2 separate regions of the Homo sapiens genome follow, and region 2 is reported to be linked to region 1. The links are microRNA targets in miRTarBase. Many come from high-throughput screens and were not tested one by one. Region 1 holds a microRNA gene; the other region holds the end of a gene's coding sequence.

Region 1 (3,000 bases):
GGAGGCTGAGGCAGGAAGCTTGCTTAAGGCCAGGAGTTTGAGACCAGCCTGGGCAATACAATAGCAAGACCCCAACTCTACAAAAAAATTAAAAAGTTAGTTGGGGCTGATAGCGTGGGTCTGTAGTCCTACATAGGAGGCTGAGGTAGGAGGATCGCTTGAGCCCAGGGGTTCAAGGCTGCAGTGAGCTATGATTGTACGACTGCACTCCAGCCTGGATAACAGAGCAAGACCCTGCCTCAAAAAAAAAAAAAAAAAAAAAAAAAAAAAAACGGAAATGGCAAAGGCCCAGGCCTAGCTCCTGGGTGTCCCTGTAAGTTAGGTTTGGTAGGCCCACCAGAGGCCTCTCCTTAAAGGAGAACATTTAGAAGCTGTGCCCACTGTTGGACATTTTTGGCCATGGTTTATCTGGGCAAGGGAGGGGACTGGGCTGGGGGCTTTCCCAGAGCCCCTGCCATCAGAGGCTCTAGAAAGGACTTTGGGAGCCATTAAAGCATCTTCAATTGGGAAGTTGTAGTGTGTGTGATCTGGCTGCTATGGGGAGACAAACTGTGGGTTTGAGGGCAAATAAACGGAGACCAAGGTAGAAGCAACTGGACTGGTCTAGGTGAGTCCTGGCAGGGCACTGGAGGCAGTGGAGGTTATGAGATGTGGCTGATTCTAGAGTGTTTTGGAAATGGTATATATGGACCTTAAATCAAGAGCTTAAGGGTAATTCGGATCACATTAGCCATGTAGGTCACGATAAATTGTTAATTTGTAGAGATTTTGGTGCCTTAATGTCAGCAAGTGTTGCACAATGAGTTTCTTTTTATTTATTTTATTTTATTTTTTTGTGATGGAGTCTCTTGTCATCCAGGCTGGAGTGCAGTGGCGCGACCTGGGCTCACTGCAACCTCCACCTCCCAGGTTCAAGCCATTCTCCTGCCTCAGCCTCCCAAGTAGCTGGGATTACAGGCGCCCACCACCACGCCTAGCTAATTTTTGTATTTTTAGTAGAGACGAAGTTTCGCCATGTTGGTCAGGCTGGTCTTGAACTCCTGACCTCAAGTGATCCACCCGCCTCAGCCTTCCACCATGCCCAGCCTTTTTATTTTTAGGAAATAGATATAGGATCTCACTATGTTGCCCAGGCTGGTCTTTTTTTTTTTTTTTTTTTTTTTTGGGGACTGAGTCTTGCTTTGTCGCCCAGACTGGAGTGCAGCGCCAGGATCTCGGCTCACTGCAAGCTCCGCCTCCCGGGTTCACGCCATTCTCCTGCCTCAGCCTCCCAAGTAGCTGGGATTATAGGCGCCTGCCATCATGCCCGGCTTATTTTTTGTATTTTTAGTAGAGACGGGGTTTCACCGTGTTAGCCAGGATGGTCTCAATCTCCTGACCTCGTGATCCACCTGCCTTGGCCTCCCGAAGTGCTGGGATTACAGGCGTGAGCCACCGCGCCTGGCCTTTTTTTTCTTAAGACAGAGTGTCACTCTATCACCCAGGCTGGAGTGCAGTGGCATGATCTCGGCTCACTGCAACCTCCGCCTCCCAGGTTCAAGCCATTCTGATGCCAGGCTGGTCTTAAACTCCTGAGCTCAAGTGATCCTTCTGCCTTGGCCTCCCAAAGTTCTGGGATTACAGGTGTGAGCCACAGCACAATGAGTTTCGATATGCATGCATTCTGGAGAGATGTGTGGAAATTCTAGGTACTTAGACATTTTTTGAAAAGAATCCTGGAACCAGATGCCTGCTGTAGATAATAGGGAAGTCTAATTAATTACTTCTACATTCCTCAGATAAGGAATTTTGCCTCCGATGGCCTGCTTGATGGTCACCAGGTGGTCTTTTTCTCTTTAATTTTAATTTGGAAATAATTTCAAGCTTTTAAGTTGCAAAAATAGAGCGCAAGGCTCGCCCAAATTCCCTTTACCCAGATTTGTCAAAGGCTACCGTTCTCCTCCCTTGTTGCCAAGTGGTAAGTTGGTTTTGAGAATCTAGAGCTTGGCCTAGGGCAAGGAAGGGCGTTCCTGGAGGGGGGCACTGCGCAAGCAAAGCCAGGGACCCTGAGAGGCTTTGCTTCCTGCTCCCCTAGGCTCGGCTGGAGCGGGACTTGAGCAACAAGAAAATCTACCAAGAGGAGGAGATGCCCGAATCGGGCGCGGGCAGTGAGTTCAACCGCAAGCTTCGGGAGGAGGCTCGGAGGAAGAAGTACGGCATCGTCCTCAAGGAGTTCCGGCCCGAGGACCAGCCCTGGCTGCTCCGGGTCAACGGCAAATCAGGCAGGAAGTAAGTGGTGGGGCGGTGGCGGTGCCGGCTTAGTGACCAGTCCACATCCCCAGGCCTCAACTTACATACTTTGTGGGGTACCCTCTCTGAACCTCAGATTCCCACTGCTGCAGTGGAAGTGCTGGCACTTCCATCCCTGTAGGATTTTATTATTTATTTATTTATTTATTTATTTATGTTATCTTATTTTACTTACTTGTATTTTTTTGAGACAGAGTCTTGCTCTGTCGCCCAGGCTGGAGTGCAGTAGCACGATCTTGGCTCACTGCAACCCACACCTCCCAGGTTCAAGTTATTCTCCTGCCTGAGCCTCCTGAGTAGCTGGGATTACAGGTGCCTGCCACCACCACGCCCAGCTAATTTTTGTATTTTTAGTAGAGACAGGGTTTCACCATATTGGTCAGGCTGGTCTCGAACTTGGCGATCCTCCCGCCTCGGCCTCCCGTAGTGCTGGGATTACAGGCGTGAGCCACCGTGCCCAGCCTACTTATTTATTTTGAGACAGGGTCTCACTCCGTTGCCCAGGCTGGAGTGCAGTGGTGCGATCGTAGCTCACTGCAGGCTCCAACTCCTGGGCTCGAGATCTTCCCACCTCAGCATCCTGAGTAGCTGGGACTATAGGCACGCCCCACCATGCCTGGCTAATTTTTGTATTTTTGGTAGAGATGGGGTCTTGCTGCGTTGCTCAAGCTGGTCTTGAACTCCTGGGGTCAAGTGATCCTCCTACCTTGG
Region 2 (3,000 bases), not on the chromosome of region 1:
GTGTGTGAGTGTGTGTGCTGGGCAGCAGGCTGCTGAGTGGTAGTGATGCTGTTAGGCTGGGGTGGGGAACCAGTGGCTGGAATGGGCGGTAATGTCTTTGTCCTCTACTTGCAGATCCACTCCTTATACCGCCGCACAGGTGCCAGCTTTCAGAAGGCCCAGCAAGAATTTGCTGCTGGTGTCTTCTCCAACCCTGCGGTGCGAACCGCAGCTGCCAATGCAGCCGCTGGGGCTGCTGAAAATGCCTTCCGGGCCCCGTGACCCCTGACTGGGATGCCCTGGCCCTGCTACTTGAGGGAGCTGACTTAGCTCCCGTCCCTAAGGTCTCTGGGACTTGGAGAGACATCACTAACTGATGGCTCCTCCGTAGTGCTCCCAATCCTATGGCCATGACTGCTGAACCTGACAGGCGTGTGGGGAGTTCACTGTGACCTAGTCCCCCCATCAGGCCACACTGCTGCCACCTCTCACACGCCCCAACCCAGCTTCCCTCTGCTGTGCCACGGCTGTTGCTTCGGTTATTTAAATAAAAAGAAAGTGGAACTGGAACTGACATCCCCGTTTCCTGAATCTTCATTGGGAATTAGGCCTTATGAAAGAGAAAGGAGAGTGTGGAGTGAGGTGGGAAGGTCGGACCCGGCTTTAGTGTAAACTGGGAGATATGAGGGGCGGGGCGGTGGAGCCCGAGTGGCTGGCGCAGGAAGGAGGTGGGAAGTCCACGGAAACGCGAAACCCGGAGACGCCAGGGAGCCCTGCTCCCCACCCCTCTCCATTAATGACGGGGAAGAGCCACCGCCTCTGCCGGGAACGCCAAGGAATACGCGGGCCTGGAGCCTGAAAAGCTGGATGGGGCTCAAGTGGAGGCCCAAAGGATCACTAGCAGCCTAGCCAGGGTCCAGAGCGAGGCAGGGACTGGAGGAGCGCTTATCCGACTGCCTCGCCCTGCCGCGGGATCCCCCAACCCCGACAGGGTCTCAGTCCCGAACTACAACTCCCGGGGTGCACCGCGCCGGCCCTCGCCGCCATGCCCCTCCTTCCCGCACCATCCCCATTCCCATCCCCCTTCTCTAGTCCCCGACCTGCGGCAGCCGGAGCTCGGGGAGCGGAGCGTGGTGGGGAGGGGAGCGGGACAGGCGACACAGGAGACAGCGGCGCCGCGGCCTCTCCCCACCAGGCGGCCCCGGATCCTACTGGACGCCCTGAGGGCACACCGACCGCGCCTCTAGAGTCACCCCACGCCGACCCCTCCCCTCTTCTCTAGACTTATTTCCATCCTTCCCGCTTTTACCCTCCCCACCCCTCCCTGGGCTCCAGGCCGCCGCCCCCTCCTCACTCCTGGACCGGCCCTTCTCGGTGCCCCTCTTCCCTAGGGAGATGCGATGAGCCGGTGCCCCCGCGTCCTCATCGTCGCCCCGGGCACGGTGCCCGTCCAGTGCCCGTGGTGGGGAGGGAGCACTCCGCGGTCCCTCCGTGACGCCCCTCGCTTGGCCCCCCCCACAGCTGGCGTCCCTCGGCCATGCCCCAGGGGACCCAGCCAGGGGGTGGGCTCTAGAGCGAGTGGGGTGGAGAGGAGAAAGGACGGGGCCTTGGGCGCCTCTGAGATGCTCCCAAGTGCCAGGGAGGGCCGAGCGAGGCGCAGGCAACCGGGCAGCAGGCATGATGCCCTCGCCTAGTGACTCCAGCCGCTCGCTGACCAGCCGGCCCAGCACCAGGGGCCTTACCCACCTCCGCCTCCACCGACCCTGGCTGCAGGCCCTGCTTACGCTGGGGCTGGTCCAAGTGCTCCTGGGCATCCTGGTGGTCACCTTCAGCATGGTGGCCTCTTCCGTCACCACCACCGAGAGCATCAAGAGGTCCTGCCCGTCTTGGGCTGGGTTCTCGGTGAGTTGGGTGCACAGTTGTTGGGTGGGGGAGGCTCCTCGGGCCCCACCCTCCACACCAGCTGCAAGTCCACATGCTTGCCTCTCCTCCCTCTCCTGGTCCTCTGCCTCCTTACAGGGCTGGGTGCATCCTGTGGTGAGGGGCTCACTCAGGAGCCTCCCCTGCCAGGCTGAGCCTGTGCCCACTCTGTCCCCAGCTGGCGTTCTCCGGGGTGGTTGGCATTGTGTCCTGGAAGCGGCCATTCACTCTAGTGGTAGGTGCCAGGGTCCAGTGCCCACTGGGAGGCAGGTGCCCAGCACGCAAGGGGAAGCCCATTTATGTCCTCAAGAAGGGAACTGGCTCCCCAGTTGGTGCCAGCCGGGTGGGCACGAAGTGTCTGTGAAGGAGGGGGACTCTGTCCGTGGCAGAGGAGTACTCATGAGGGTCCCAGCCCTGAGTCTGCACCCTGTTTTCCCCAGATCTCCTTCTTCTCCTTGCTTTCGGTGCTCTGTGTCATGCTTAGCATGGCTGGCTCTGTTCTCTCCTGTAAGAATGCTCAACTGGCCCGAGACTTCCAACAGTGCTCTCTGGTGAGATTTGAGGAGGGAGAGCTGGAAAGAACTGGCTGGGGGAGGTGTGCAGGACACCTCAGTTTGTCCTGACTCAGGCTGCCTCACCCTCCCTGCTCCACTCAGGAAGGAAAGGTCTGTGTGTGCTGTCCCTCTGTTCCCCTCCTCCGGCCCTGTCCAGAGTCGGGGCAGGAACTGAAAGTTGCCCCTAACTCCACCTGTGATGAAGCCCGAGGGGCCCTCAAGGTGAGCTTGCACCCTGCAAACATCCTCCTGGTTCTCACTCTTGCCTCCCCTGCTGGGGTACTCACAGGCCCATAATGTGTGGAACTTAGCCGTCTCCTGACTCCTCTCCTCCTTTCCCTTCCCCAGAACCTGCTCTTCAGCGTCTGTGGGCTCACCATTTGTGCCGCTATAATCTGTACACTCTCTGCTATTGTCTGCTGCATCCAAATCTTCTCCCTGGACCTCGTGCATACGGTGAGAAGGGAGCAGGGGCCAGGGCACGCAGGTATGGTGGGGGCAGGGGTGTGTGTGCTGAGACTTGCCTGAGGGAACAATGGCTACAGAT

The links. The annotated mature microRNA hsa-miR-6885-5p reads AGGGGGGCACUGCGCAAGCAAAGCC and lies in region 1 at 2,014-2,038, shown strand. An mRNA with a match to its seed (bases 2 to 7 or 8) in the 3' UTR can be bound and repressed. Matches are read on the target gene's strand: a 7mer-m8 pairs with bases 2 to 8, a 7mer-A1 pairs with bases 2 to 7 and ends in A, and an 8mer does both.
Region 2: the mRNA of SCAMP3 is a reported target of hsa-miR-6885-5p. Seed matches in the 3' UTR shown: 7mer-A1 at 438-444.

What each region holds. Positions count from the first base shown.
Region 1 is chr19:6,388,712-6,391,711 of GRCh38, reverse strand. It overlaps MIR6885 (microRNA 6885), which reads left to right and starts at 2,009; the gene lies at 2,009-2,074. GTF2F1 (general transcription factor IIF subunit 1) reads left to right here. Exons shown (of 13, transcript NM_002096.3): 4 at 2,075-2,268.
Region 2 is chr1:155,253,534-155,256,533 of GRCh38, reverse strand. It overlaps SCAMP3 (secretory carrier membrane protein 3), which reads left to right. Exons shown (of 9, transcript NM_005698.4): 9 at 115-553. The coding sequence ends at 261. ENTREP3 (endosomal transmembrane epsin interactor 3) reads left to right here and starts at 1,051. Exons shown (of 12, transcript NM_006589.3): 1 at 1,051-1,881; 2 at 2,078-2,134; 3 at 2,340-2,450; 4 at 2,556-2,675; 5 at 2,802-2,909. The coding sequence starts at 1,657.